Homo sapiens: one gene and its partners. The protein of the gene in region 1 purifies or fractionates together with the protein of each later gene. This does not show direct contact. Each region holds a gene or a part of one and is shown on either strand. Other genes may lie near its edges.

The links. Proteins that work in one complex are often made in the same cells at the same time.
Region 2: the proteins of ZMYND11 (region 1) and SRSF10 purify together in Homo sapiens (affinity purification with mass spectrometry, with the first as the bait; one large-scale study listed by BioGRID). This does not show direct contact.
Region 3: the proteins of ZMYND11 (region 1) and KDM3B purify together in Homo sapiens (affinity purification with mass spectrometry, with the first as the bait; one large-scale study listed by BioGRID). This does not show direct contact.
Region 4: the proteins of ZMYND11 (region 1) and SRSF4 purify together in Homo sapiens (affinity purification with mass spectrometry, with the first as the bait; one large-scale study listed by BioGRID). This does not show direct contact.

What each region holds. Positions count from the first base shown.
Region 1 is NC_000010.11:249,897-252,795, reverse strand, and holds part of ZMYND11 (zinc finger MYND domain-containing protein 11), read right to left. Parts: intron 449-2,899; coding exon 326-448; 3' UTR 1-325. UniProt on the Homo sapiens protein: Chromatin reader that specifically recognizes and binds histone H3.3 trimethylated at 'Lys-36' (H3.3K36me3) and regulates RNA polymerase II elongation. Does not bind other histone H3 subtypes (H3.1 or H3.2).
Region 2 is NC_000001.11:23,970,328-23,974,106, reverse strand, and holds part of SRSF10 (serine/arginine-rich splicing factor 10), read left to right. Parts: intron 1-2,094; coding exon 2,095-2,257; intron 2,258-2,480; coding exon 2,481-2,534; intron 2,535-2,667; coding exon 2,668-2,965; 3' UTR 2,966-3,779. UniProt on the Homo sapiens protein: Splicing factor that in its dephosphorylated form acts as a general repressor of pre-mRNA splicing. Seems to interfere with the U1 snRNP 5'-splice recognition of SNRNP70. Required for splicing repression in M-phase cells and after heat shock.
Region 3 is NC_000005.10:138,393,906-138,397,684, forward strand, and holds part of KDM3B (lysine-specific demethylase 3B), read left to right. Parts: intron 1-3,779. UniProt on the Homo sapiens protein: Histone demethylase that specifically demethylates 'Lys-9' of histone H3, thereby playing a central role in histone code. Demethylation of Lys residue generates formaldehyde and succinate. May have tumor suppressor activity.
Region 4 is NC_000001.11:29,147,243-29,151,179, forward strand, and holds the end of SRSF4 (serine/arginine-rich splicing factor 4), read right to left. Parts: intron 2,951-3,937; coding exon 2,861-2,950; intron 1,985-2,860; coding exon 1,168-1,984; 3' UTR 501-1,167; downstream 1-500. UniProt on the Homo sapiens protein: Plays a role in alternative splice site selection during pre-mRNA splicing. Represses the splicing of MAPT/Tau exon 10.

The DNA of each region.
Region 1 (2,899 bases):
CACCTGTTTTTTAAAGATCTGTTGTTTAAAGGTTAAAATCTCTGTAAAACCTAAAAATGTTTTAAAATTTGCTGAAAATGCAACAAATTCTCAATTAAAATTTATTTAAAATAATACCCTCCACTGATGTTACTTTTACCCCCTGAAAAACTTCGGAGGAGCATTAACAAAAGATTTAAACTACTGTGCAAAATTTCTTCACGAAAAGTGTTTAAAGGCTGGTGCAAAATGGGAAGCAAATTCTAAACAATTTTGGCTTCTTGGAAACAAAAACCGCTGTGTCTGAAAAGAGTAATCATCGGGGTGACTCCGGGAAGGGCCAGCTTCATCTTTTCCGGCGGCAGGTGCGCTTGTGCTCCGCGTGCCAGTGCTCCTGCTGGCACTTGATGGAGCAGTAGGATGTGTTCCAGCAGCAGTGGTACATGGCCTCCTCCTCACAGTTGTAGCACTGCAGGTAAGAAATCGGGGCAGTCTTTAGACTTGGGTGTGGATGTGTAAGCGACTGGTTAAAATGGCAAACTCTTGAGGTGGTGCTTTTAAAAGATCTTTCTGGCTCAACCTTTTGTGGAATCTGAATACGTTTTATGCACAGCAGATGGAAAGGGAGCCCTGGGGATGACTGCAGCTCATGCCTGGTTGTCAGCAAACTCAAGCTGCTGTCAGGTGGTACCTGACACCTCCCGTTTTTTCCATCTCTGTGAGAGTCATTCCCGTTTCTTTTCTTAAAATGCTCTTGACTTCACATCCCTTTCCAGCTACCACTTGCATTTCTCTGCTCCCCACAAGCTCCTTGAAAGACTTGCCTAAACTCCCTATTTCAAATTCTTCTCTCGTCGTTAACATACGCTGCAGTCTTTACTCATACCATGCCACTAATATGCTGCTAGCAGGGTCACTTACAACTTCAAATCTAGTGGCCAAGTCTCAGTCTTCATCTTATTTGGCAATGTCTGGAGATATTTTTGACTGTCACAACTTAAGGGCAGAAGGTACTACTGGCAGACAGAGGCCTGGGATGCTGTTAAACATCCCACCATGTACACCTCCCCCAAAGAATGTTCTAGTGCAAGGGTCCATATACCATGGTTGAACTCTTTGGTCATGGGAGAAGAGAAGAGTGAAAAAAGTAAAGCTAAAGTTCCAAGCTGGGTTGGTGAACTAACAGTAGTACCATGAACAGACACCCACAGTGAGGCAAGGAAGATGAGAGACCTTCTGGATGTAAACAAACACTTGACAACAGGTCAGTATAAATATGAAAGTTCTGTAGATAGACACATGCAGATCTGACGGCTGTTGAGAGCCCTGGAGGAAGAACCCAGGGAGACTAGCCTACATTTGATACCTAAACATTCTAATTTCCTTCCTGTGTATTGTGTGCATTATTATCCATTATGTCAGCAAGTGCACCTTCAGAAAAATCCCCATTAGGTGCAGAGTCAGTTTTGGAAACGGCTTGGATGAGGCGTGTCGGGATTCACATCTGGGGTCTGTGCCACCCACTGGTCATGTGGCTTCAAGTTATTTAACTTCTTAGTTTCCTCATCTTTCAGACTTTACACAGCACCACCATCCCTTCTCCCAAATACCCTATTATTTCGTTTTCAATTTCTCCCTTTCTGGGGATATATTTAATGGATACATCTATCTGTGTTTCTCGTGACATCCATTATTCGGCATCTGGCATACCTACATGCTTTCTGTCCTATAATACTACTCTATTTCTTACAACAATGTAAGATGTAATTGGGAAGAAAGAATTCTTGATTCTTTGAGAGTGAGTCTCGCTCTGTCGCCCAGGCTGGAGTGCAGTGGCACAATCTCAGCTCATTTTGATCTCTGCCTCCTGGGTTCAAGAGATTCTTCTGCCTGAGCCTCTCAAGTAGCTGGGGTTTCAGGCACACACCACCACGCCCGGCTAATTTTTGTATTTTTTGTAGAGATGGGGTTTCACCATGTTGCCCAGGCTGGTCTCAAGTGATCTGCCCACCTCGGCCTTCCCAAGTGCTGGAATTACAGGTGTGAGCACCGAGCCTGGCCGAGAAGAAAGAATTCTAACCCTTTTACTAGAATGTGATGAGCACAAAAAGCTCAGCTCTGCCAACTAGGTTTTTAATCATTCTATTTAATCTCATAAGCCTCAAATTCTTCATCTTAAAGAAGAGTACAAAAATACCCACTTTAGCTGTTTCACAAATGGTAAAGTGCTACAAAAGACAGTATTATAATTATAGCCTCTTCTTCCCATTTTCTTGATTCTTTAGTAAACTTAAGAGATTTCTACTCATAAGAATTTTTTAAGAGACAGGGTCTTGCTCCATCGCCCAGGCTGGAGTGCAGTGGTGCAATGACACCTCTCTGCAACCTTGCACTCCTGGGCTCAACCAATCCTTCCACCTTGGCCTCCCAAAGCACTGGGACTACGGGCATGAGCCACTGCACCTGGCGTCTTTGGGTGTTGTGCTTCTGTTATCTTCAGCACACCTTAATTCCCATCTAATGATATTGTGAGAGTTGATCACACAAATTCAGTCATTCTTGTCATACCCAACTAAAACTGAGTTGAGAAGCTGGGGGGAGAAGCACCTGGAACACAAAATGTTGGCTGCAGCTCTCAGACTAGTTTTGCCGACTGCCATCCCTCACCAGTCAGAGCTTGTCAGCTCCTCAAAACCTTACGAGCAGCAGTGAAATTTCTTAAAGAAGAACATGGAAAAGTTATTCGGAAAGCACGCTTTCACTTGTACTGAAGGCTATAACACCCAATGTGCAGGTTGTTTTTTTAACAGAAAATAAAGTTCTCTTTTTCCCTCCACAGATCTCCTGGTCTTTTGTTAACAATATTTATTTTGTTATTCACCAGCTCTTCCTACCAAGTTATCTTCATCTATTCGAAGTT
Region 2 (3,779 bases), on another chromosome or scaffold:
GGCAGGAGAATTGCTTGAACCCGGCAGGCAGAGGTTGCAGTGAGCCGAGATCATGCCACTGCACTCCAGACTGGGCAACAGAGCAAGACTGTGCCTCAAAAAAAAAAAAAAAAATAGCTGCTGAGGAGAGGAGGAGCTCTTGAGTACTCAATGCAAACTATTGGAACTCTAGTTCTTGAGTTGGGTAATAGATTCCTGGTTATGCATTGTGTTTTTTATATGTACTCCAATACATAAAGTATCTGCTTCATTGAATTGAATGAGATAAGAATTGAAGTGTACATAAGGCATTTAGGAATGCCTTATTATTCTACTTAGGGTCTTAGAACTGTAATATTACTGCATGTTGACACTGCACATTGTTCATAGGCCACCTATAAATATTTTGTTAATTGTGTTCTTAATGAATGGAATCTGTGGTGGGATCATTCCAAATCAGCATATGGTTCAGTGGTCATTTTTTTCAGCCATTTGAAAATGTAAAATATGTGGGTGTGGTAGCTCACGCCTGTAATCCCACCACTTTGGGAGGCCTAGGCGGGAGAATTGCCTGAGCCCAGGAGTTTGAGACCAGCCTGGGCAACAAAGTGAGACCCCATCTCCACAAAAAATAAAATAAAAAATTAGCCAGGCTTGATAGTGCACACCTGTGGTCCCCGCTAGGCAGGAGGATCACTTGGGCCCAGGAGGTTGAAGTTGCAGAGAGCTGTGTTTGCACAAGTGCACTCCAGCCTGGGTAGCAGCAAGACCCAATCTCAAAACAAAAAGGCACTCACTTCCATTTGGAGTTTTTAAAAATCCTTTTATGGTATGGATTCCCAGTGTCAGAACAGTTACCAGGTCTTGGCTGATAAACTAGATGGTGAGAAGACTTTGAAAATAGTTGGGGATATTAGTATTATTTTTAACATAAAACAGTCTTCTAATACACTTTCTTGAAAATAAATACGTGCCTTTTTCAAGATGAAAATTTGCAGTTACCTCAACCCAGCCTTGGCTAAATCACGTTCTGCATCTGCATCTCACACCAAAACTACAGACACCTCTAAAACAGACTCCAGGGCTGGGCACGGTGGCTCAAGCCTGTAATCCCAGCACTTTGGGAGGTCAAGGCGGGCAGGGGCAGATCACCTGAGGTCAGGAGTTCAAGTCCAGCCTGACCAACATGGAGAAACCCTGTCTGCACTAAAAATACGAAACTAGCCTGGTGTGGTGGCGCATGCTGTAATCCCAGCTACTTGGGAGGCTGAGGCAGGAGAATCGCATGAACTCAGGAGACGGAGGTTGTGGTGAGCCGAGATTGCGCCATCGCACTCCGGCCTGGGCAACAAGAGCAAAACTCCGTCTCAAAAAAAAAAGACTCCAGGCTGGGTGCGGTGGCTCACACCTGTAATCCTAGCACTTCGGGAGGCCGAGGCGGGTGGATTATTTGAGGTCAGGAATTCGAGACCAGCCTGGCCAATATGGTGAAACCCTGTCTCTACTAAAATACAAAAATTAGCCGGGTGTGGTGGCGCGTGCCTGTAATCTCAGCTCCTCAGGAGGCTGAGGCAGGAGAATGGCTTCAACTGGTGTGGGGTGGAGGTTGCAGTGAGTTGAGATTGCGCCACTGCATTCCAGCCTGGGTAACAGAGCAAGACCCTGGTCTCAAAAATTAAAATAATTAAAAAAAAAAGACACCAAAACACATACACACTTTTTTTTTTTGGAGACAGGGTCTCTGACCCCCAGGCTGGCGTGCGGTGGTGTGATCACAATTTACTGCAGCCACCAACTCATGAGCTCAAGTGATTTCCCCCCTTAGCCTCCTGGGTAGCTGGAATACATGTGCAAGCCACTAGGCCCAGCTAATTATTTTTTGTAGAAATGGCATATTGCTATGTTGCCCCAGGCTGGTCTCAAACTCCTGGGCTCAAGTGATCCTCCCACCTCAACCTCCCAAAGTAGTGGGATCACAGGTGTGAGCCACCACCCGGGTCATACATACTCTCTTTGGGATATAAGAGGGGATGCAGGGATTTTTTTCCCTATTTATTGAGGGCTTTAATACTGTTTTTAATATTTTTAAATATTTCTGTTCTTTGTATTTCCTAGCACCAAATCAGATGAAAGCCAAGGAAGGGAGGAATGTGTACAGTTCTTCACGCTATGATGATTATGACAGATACAGACGTTCTAGAAGCCGAAGTTATGAAAGGAGGAGATCAAGAAGTCGGTCTTTTGATTACAACTATAGAAGATCGTATAGTCCTAGAAAGTAAGTGTGCTGTGTAGCACAGTGATCTGTTTAAAAAATGTATTTGTTAGCATTTAATTTTTTTTTACTATTTTGTATACTTTTAATTATATACATTGAATGTTTCATTGAGACAAAAAATACTGTAGCATTTTATTTTAAAAGTTTTATGGTTTGCTTTTAATTAGAAACTTTGCCTCTATGAATAGATATTTGTCACTGCTTTTTCTGATATGCTTTTTAGCAGTAGACCGACTGGAAGACCACGGCGTAGCAGAAGCCATTCCGACAATGATAGGTAAATAACTTTGCTTTGAAAAAGACTCATGTATTTTTTAATTTCAGAGTGAACTTTTGCTCTAAAAATAACAAATTTGATTAATATAGAATCTAATTTTTACTCTAATTATATCTCTCCTCTGTTTTGAAAGATTCAAACACCGAAATCGATCTTTTTCAAGATCTAAATCCAATTCAAGATCACGGTCCAAGTCCCAGCCCAAGAAAGAAATGAAGGCTAAATCACGTTCTAGGTCTGCATCTCACACCAAAACTAGAGGCACCTCTAAAACAGATTCCAAAACACATTATAAGTCTGGCTCAAGATATGAAAAGGAATCAAGGAAAAAAGAACCACCTAGATCCAAATCTCAGTCAAGATCACAGTCTAGGTCTAGGTCAAAATCTAGATCAAGGTCTTGGACTAGTCCTAAGTCCAGTGGCCACTGATAGTATAAACCATGGTCATTTTTAGGCATGTATCATTCATTTACTCATAGTTTGGTTTACTTAAATTATCAGGAATACAATGTTGCAATGATGCTTAAAAAACACTTGTTAGTTTTCCCTGTACCAGGCAATGGTTATAATTAAAATGATATGCTGTTGAGAAGCCACTCTTAAGAGTCCAGTTTGTTTAATGTTATGGGCAGCTACCAATTTGTGGTGTCTCTGTATATTTTTGTAAAGATTCTCATTTTTTATGCTTGAAGTATTTGGTGAAAAGATGTTGGTTGACCATAATTTGCAACATTGTCTCATTAAAAATAAACTTTCATATTCATATTTGGTAGAACTGTTAACCTAGAAATGTAGCTTGCTAATAAGATAGAATGATACAAAAGTGAAGTAGTAGCCACAGTACAACACTGACTGCTCAGACACATTTAGGTTCAGGGTGGACCTTTATGTCTTGTCAAGATGTCTAGGCCCGGCTGGGCGTGGTGGCTCACACCTGTAATCCCAGCACTTTGGGAGGCCGAGGCGGGCGGATCACGAGGTCAGGAGTTCGAGACCAGCCTGACCAACACGGTGAAACCCCGTCTCTACTAAAAATACAAAAATTATCCGGGCATGGTGGCACATGCCTGTAATCTCAGCTACTCAGGAGGCTGAGGCAAGAGAATCGCTTGAACCTGGGAGGTAGAAGTTGCAGTGAGCCAAAATCACGCCACTGCACTCCAGCCTGGGCAACAGAGTGAGACTCCGTCTCAAAAAAAAAAAAAAACCGGATGTCTAGGCCAATGATAATTATTTTTGATGC
Region 3 (3,779 bases), on another chromosome or scaffold:
GACCTTTCAAGAATCTTTAATTTTTAAAGTAAATCCAAATGGTTTACCAATATGGTGTGGATTCACTTAGCAAATGTTTATTGAGCATTTAATGTGTGCCAACCCTTGTTCTGGCCATTGAATATTCAGCAGTGAACAACAAAAAAATCAAATTTCAGCCCTCAGAAGGTTTGGGGAGGCAGACAGTAAATAAGGAAAAAAGGCCAAGCATGATTACATGCCTTTAACTCCAGCACTTTGGGAGGCCGAAGCAGAAGGATCACTTGAGACCAGCATGGGCAACATAGTGAGACCTAGTCTCTACAGAAAATTTTAAAAATTAGCCGAGTGTGGTGGCACACACCTGTAATTCCAGCTACTCAGGAGGCTGAGGTGGGAGGATCACTTGAGCCCAGGAGGTCAAAGCTGCATTGAGCCTTGATCGTACCACTGCACTCCAGCCTTAGAAGCAAAGCGAGGCTCTCTCTAAAAGAAAAAGAAAAAATAATAAGTGATATGTCAGCTGATAATAACTATGAGAAAAATAAGGAAAGAGGATTGAAGTGTGAGGATGCTAGAGAGGCTACAGTTTTAAACAGGATGATCTGAGAAAGTGAGAGTTGAGGAACAGCCTGCAGGAGGTGAAAGAATACACCACACTGTGACAGGTATTCCAGACAGGTGCAAGCATCCCAAAGCTGGAGTATTTCTGGTGTGTCCATAAAGTTAGGTTGCTAAAATAGAATAAACAAAGAAGGAAAAGGAGTTGAGGTGAATGAGTTAATGATGGGTCCACATTTTAAAGGGCTATTCCAAAGGCCTTGGTTTTTACTCTGATGAGAAGTCATTGGAGGCCTTGAGCTGATGCGTGACACTGATTAATGTTTTAAAAGGCCACTTTGGCCACCTTTTTGAGAATAAGCTATGTAGAGGCAAGGGCAGAAGCAGAGAAGTTAGGAGGCTGTTGGAATTATCCAAGTGAGAAATGATGGGGCTTGGACCACGGAGATAGTGATGGACATGATGAGAAGTAGTTGAAGATAGAGTAGACATAATTTTCTGATGAATTAGATGTGAAGTATGAAAGAAAGGACTTAAGGATGATTCTATGTCTGGTTCTAGATATGTCTTTTGGCCTAAAAACAGGAAGAATGAGATTGCCATTTACTGATAAAGAGATTCTTTAGGGAAAAGCAGGTTTGGGGAGGAAAAGGGGGAGTTTTAACTTGGCCGTGTTAAATTTGAGATGCTTGTTAGATTTTCAAAGGAAAATACTGAGAAGGCAGCTGGGGATACAGCTCTAGAGTTAAGGGAAGGGGTCCTACCTGGAGATATAAATTTGGATATCACCAGGTATTTAAAGCTGTCAGTCTAAGTGAGATCAGAGCATAGATAAAGAAGAATAGCAGTCCAGGGACCAAACTCTGGTACTCTCCAATGTTTAGAGGTGAGAAAGATGGAAGCAACTAGTAAAGGAGACTGAGAAAGAACAGCTAGTGAAGTAGCAGGAAAACTAGGCAGTGAGGTATCCCAGAAGACAACTAAAGAAAGTATTTCCAGGAAGGAATAATGAACTGTGTCAAATGTTGCTGACTTGAATGGGGGCGGTAGCTCACGCTTGTAATCCCAGGATCTTGGGAGGCTAAGGTTGAAGGATCACTTGAGGCCAGCAGTTTGAGACCACCCTGAACGATGTAGTGAGACCCTGTCTCTACAAAAAATAATAGTAATAATAATAATTTTTTTTTTTGAGACGGAGTCTTGCCCTGTTGCCCAGGCTGGAGTGCAATGGCGTGGTCTTGGCTCACTGCAACCTCCATCTCCTGGGTTCAAGCGATTCTCCTGCCTCAGTCTCCTGAGTAGCTGGGATTATAGGTGCGCGCCACCATGCTCGGCTAATTTTTTGTATTTTTGGTAGAGACAGGGTTTCACCACATTGGCCAGGCTGGTCTTGAACTCCTAACCTGAGGTGATCCGCTTGCCTCAGCCTCCCAAAGTGCAGGGCTTATGGGTGTGAGCCACTGCACCCTGCACAAATCAATTTTTAATAAAAAAGTAAAAATGTTGCTGACAGGTCATGTTACATATGGACTAGAAGTGACTGATTTAGCAAGGTAGAATTACCTTATCAAAATAGTTTTGCTAGATTGGTAGGGGAATTGCCTGATTGTAGGGAAGAAAATAAAAGGGAAAGGAACCTATGGCAATGAGTATAGACAACTCTTCTTTTTTTTTAGATGGAGTCTTGCTGCCCAGGCTGGAGTGCAGTGGCGCAATCTTGGCTCACTGCAATCTCCGCCTCCCGGGTTCACGCCATTCTCCTGCCTCAGCCTCCCGAGTAGCTGGGACTACAGGTGCCCGCCACCACACCCAGCTAATTTTTTATATTTTTAGTAGAGACAGGGTTTCACCGTGTTAGCCAGGATGGTCTTGATCTCCTGACCTCGTGATCCGCCCGCCTCAGCCTCCCAAAGTGCTGGGATTACAGGCGTGAGCCACTGCGCCCGGCCAAGTATAGACAACTCTTTAGAGGAACTTTGCTCAAGCAGATAAATGGAGGGAGGGTATGGCTTGAGAGGATTTTTGTGGTAGAAATTGGAGCAAATTTATGTGCTGGCAGCAGTGATCTGATACAGAAGAAAATAGATGATGTTGAAAAGAGAGGAGAGATTTAGTGGAGAAATGCCTTTGGGTTGGGGAAAAGTGATAGGATGTAGTAGGAGATACTGGCCTTTGCTGGTTCAGAGCAGCGGGAACTCATGGAATACGTGGGCCAAGTTGCAGGGAAGTGTGGTAGTGTCGTGGTGGGAGCTTGTGGAGGTTGTTTTCTGGCTCCTCTTTTCTCAGTGGAATAGAAAACAAGGTCCTCACAGGGGAAGTAATATTGGAGGTATGAATAGAAGGAAGGTATGAAAATAGGCATCTAGAAGAGGGAATGTACCAAGAAACTGTATTGTGACTGTCAGGCAATATTAAGGACTCACTTGATGTAGGTAGACATGAATTTAAAGTGTTAAAAGGCCAGGCACAGTGGCTTATGCCTATAATCCCTACACTTTGGAAGGCCGAGGTGGGCGGATCGCTTAAGCCCAGGTGTTTGAAATTGGCCTGGGCAACATGGCAAGACCCTGTCTCTACAAACAGTTTTAAAAAATGAAAAATTAGGCCAGGCGCAGTGGCTCACGCCTGTAATCCCAGCACTTTGGGAGGCCGAGGCAGGTGGATCACAAGGTCGGGAGATCGAGACCATCCTGGCTTAACATGGTAAAACCCCGTCTCTACTAAAAATACAAAAACAAAATCAGCTGGGCGTGGTGGCAGGCGCCTGTAGTTCCAGCTACTGGGGAGGCTGAGGCGGGAGAATGGCATGAACCCCGGAGGAGGCGTTTGCAGTGAGCCAAGATCGCACCACTGCACTCCATCCTGGGTGGCAGAGCGAGACTCTGTCTCAAAAAAAAACTAAAAAATAAAAAATTATTTGGATGTGGTGGCATGTCCCTGTAGTCCCAGCTACTTGAGAAGCTGAGGTGGCAGGATTGTTTGAGCCCAGGAGGTCAAGGCTGCAGTGAGCTGTGATGGCACCACTGTGCTCCAGCCTGGGTAACAGAACGCAACTTTGTCTCCAAAAAATAAATAAATAAATTGTTACAATGAAAGTGGCTCTGTGTTAGCCGGGAGTGGTGTGGTTCATGCCTGTAATCCCAGCACTTTGGAAGACCGAGGCAGGCGGATCTCTTGAGGTCAGTAGTTCAAGACCAGCCTGGGCAGTAGTTCAAGACCAGCCTGGGCAACATGGCGAA
Region 4 (3,937 bases), on another chromosome or scaffold:
AAAGGATGATAAATTCCTCGGAAACCTGCCTTTATTCTGTTGGTGAGAAAAATCCTTTAGGAACGTGTTGGTTCCCTAAGATGGGTGATCCCAAGGAACAAAACAGTCATTACACATGAACTTTTTTTTTTTTTTTTTTTGAGACGGAGTCTCGCTCTGTCGCCCAGGCTGGAGTACAGTGGCGTGATCTCAGCTCACTGTAACCTCCACCCCTCGGGGTTCAAGCGATTCTCCTGCCTCATTCTCCTGAGTAGCTGGGATTACTGGCGTGTACCACCATGCCTGGCTAATTTTTGTATTTTCAGTAGAGACGGGGTTTCACCATGTTGGTCAGGCTGGTCTCGAACTCCTGACATTGTGATCCGTCTGCCTAAGCCTCACAAACTGTTGGGATTACGGGCGTGAGCCACCGTGCCCGGCCTACACATGAACTTTTTATGCTAAGAAAAGACATATCAAGATATATCAGAAAGTACAACTTCAATTCAAACACCATGAAATTTTGTCAAGCAAAAATAGTCTTTATTCAAATTTAATGGAAACAGGGGTCACTATACTTTGCAAGACGGGGAAAAATAAAATTAAAAAAAATTCTTTTCTTTTCTTTTTTAATATAAAACAATATAATCACAATACCAGAATATGGAACTCTACAGTTTATTTCCTATGGGTTACTGCAGGTATCAATTTTCCTCGACTGTGCTATTCACAACTTTGTTAAGTCCAAAAATATGAAACCAAAGTGGTAGGAAACTTAAGACTTAGCACTTTCACTAAATGGCATACATCGAAGGGCATCAATTCAAGAGCAAAAATGGTTGAACTCACCATACCTACCTATGTGGTCATTCCAGCCTTAGAGCCGTCCAGGTTACTGAGCTCCCTGTAGGAAAGGCCAGGCCTGAAAGCCAAGGCGTTTTGGATATTCTACTGTGGGCCATGAGTAAAAGGGGATTTTCAAAGAGAAAATTTTTTTCAGTCGAGCAGGAAGGCCTGGTGCCAGGAGGCTTTACTGAGAGGAAGCACTTAGATTTAACAATTATAGACACACCATTAGGGGAGTTAAAAATGTACAGCAGTGACATGTTCTACTCCAATCACTTGTGCTACGGCTACCAAACATGTACAAAAGACTTCTCGGGTAGTTCCAGCTGTGGCCATAGCCAGTTAGGACCTTGAGTGGGACCTAGATCTAGATCGGGAGGGCGATCTGGAAGCAGACCTGGATCTAGACTTGGACCGAGATCGGGTTTTTGAAGCTGACTTTGATCTGGAGCGTGATTCTGATGGAAGGTTTGGTTTCGATTTGGAATTGGATCTCGACCTGGACCGGGTCTCCTGATTGGTGCCAGCATTCTCACTCTCTCCTCGACCTTCCCTCTGGCTGGATTCAGACTTGGCATGTTCCCGCTCCTTTGACACGGAGCGGGATGGAGATCTGGACTGGGAGCGGTCAGTGTCTTCCTTCTTCTTCTTCTTGCTGCTGCCCGCCTTGCTGTCTCGCTTGCTGCCTCGCTTTCTGCTCCTCTCACTCTTGCTGCGGCTGCGACTGCGACTGCGGCTCTCCTCTCTGCTTCTCTTCCTGCCCTTCCTCTTGTCCTTGCTCTTGCTGCGGCTCCTGCTCCGGCTCCTGCTGCCCCCTTTGCTCCTGCTCCGGCTCCGACTCTGGCGGAGGCTCTTCTCCTGGCTCCTGCCCCTGCTCACACTCCCTCGCTTCTCCTCCTCCACTCTCCTCTCCTGACTCCTGCTCCGACTTTTGCTCTTACTTTTATGCCTGCTAGGACTCCGGCTCTTGGGTTTCCCGACATTGTCATTGTTTTGGATCTTCTCTTCAGCTTGGTCTTTGCTCTTGCTGCGGCTCTTGCCAGCGCTATGGCTGCGGCTGCGGCTCTTTTCCTTGCTGGGGCTCCTGCTTTTCTCTTTCTTGCTCCGGCTCCGACTCTGGCTCCGGCTCCGGCTCTTGCTCCGGGAGCGGGAGCCCGACCTGAGGAGACATGGGATACTGTTTGTGTCACATGTGACTTCATGCTAATCAGGAGATAAAAAGACCAAAGGGCATACATGTGGAGTTACACCCCCCAATATAAAGCATGGCTGGCACTGGCTGAGGATTGTTTTCTGAACCCTCACAATGCCAATCAGAAGCTGGAAAAACTGGCCAGGTGCGGCGGCTCATGCCCATAATCCCAGCACTTTGAGAGGCCAAGGCAGGCGGATCGCGAGGTCAGGAGTTCAAGAGCCAGCCTGGCCAACATGGTGAAGCCCCGTCTCTACTAAAAATACCAAAAATTAGCCAGGCATGCTGGCACACGCCTGTAAACCGAGCTACTCAGGAGGCTGAGGCAGGAGAATCGCTTGAACCCGTGAGGCAGAGGTTGCAGTGAGCCGAGATCGCGCCACTGCACTCCAGATTGGGCGACAGAGCGAGACTCTGTCTTGAGGGGGGAAAAAAAAAAAAAAAAAGAAAAAGAAGCTGGAAAAGCAGGAAGACTGGTCACATGATTGAAATCCAAGTGAGGCTGGGCACAGTGGCTCATGTCTGTAATCGCAGTAGTCTGGGAGGACTATTTGAGGTCATGAGTTTAAGATTAGCCTGGGCAACATAGTGAGACCCTGTCTCTAAAAAAAATTAAAAAATTAGCTGGGTGTGGTAGTATGTGCCTGTAGTCCCAGCTACTTGGGAGGCTGAGGTGGAAGCTTGCTTGAGCCCAGTGAGGTGAGGCTGCAGTGAGCCATGACTGTACCACTGGACTCCAGCTTGGGTGACAGAGTGTCTCTTTGAAAAAAAAAAGAAAAAAAAGTGAGACAGGGTACAGGCATTCCCTGCTGACCACCTCTACTTATAACATGGAAGACATACCTGGACCGAGATCTACTCTTAGAATGACTGCTTTTGCTGCTGCCACTTCGGCTTCTGCTCTTACGGGAATGTCTGCTTCGAGAGCGAGACCTAGGGGGAGAAAATATTTTTTAATACTTGCTGACAAGAGGCTGCTGATGAGCATCAATCAAGACTATATATATTATATATATATATTTTAGATGGAGTTTCACTCTTGTTGCCCAGGCTGGAGTGCAATGGCGCGATCTCGGCTCACCACAACCTCCACCTCCTGAGTTCAAGCGATTCTCCTGCCTCAGCCTCCCAAGTATCTGGGATTACAGGCATGTGCTACCACGCCTGGCTAATTTTGTATTTTTAGTAGAGACGGGGTTTCTCCATGTTGGTCAGGCTGGTTTCGAACTCCTGACCTCAGGTGATCCACCTGCCTCGACTTCCCAAAATGCCAGGATTACAGGCATGAGCCACCGTACCCGGCCAAGATTTTCAATATGTACAGCACTGGCTGTGTCCAGGCACAAACTCTCTCTTGGGTTCTAGGTCCACAGATGAAGTCACCTGCAAACCTTCCATCTGGATGGTTCACCTGAACCTCTTAGCAGCTCCTGAAATTCTAACTGTCCCCGATGCCGGCTCCTTTTGCTGGGCTCCTTATGTGCACTGATGCCACTGTTATTCATATGGTTCCTCGTAACAGAAATCACAGCCATCCTTGACTCCCCCGTCTTTCCCCTATCCCCTTACACACCCACGATCATGCCTCCTGATCTTCGGTCTTTCTACCTCTGCTGCTGCCTCTCTGGGCAAGCCACCATTATCTCTCCCCTTGTTCAACAACCAGCCTTTCTGTGTATACTTTTCCCCTTTACGATCTATTCAACTCACTGTGACGAGAGCTGTTTTAAAGAGACCGACAATCCAAGCTTTACAAAATTTTTTTAATGCATCCAGACTGTAGATTCTTATTTTCTACCAACCAGGACTCCTTGGGAAAATGACTGACTCCAGGCGTAAAGCAGGAAGTAGTACACAAAGATGGGCCTAGACCATCTCATTATGACAGAAAGAGGGAAACTTTCAAAGCTGCCCAGGCAC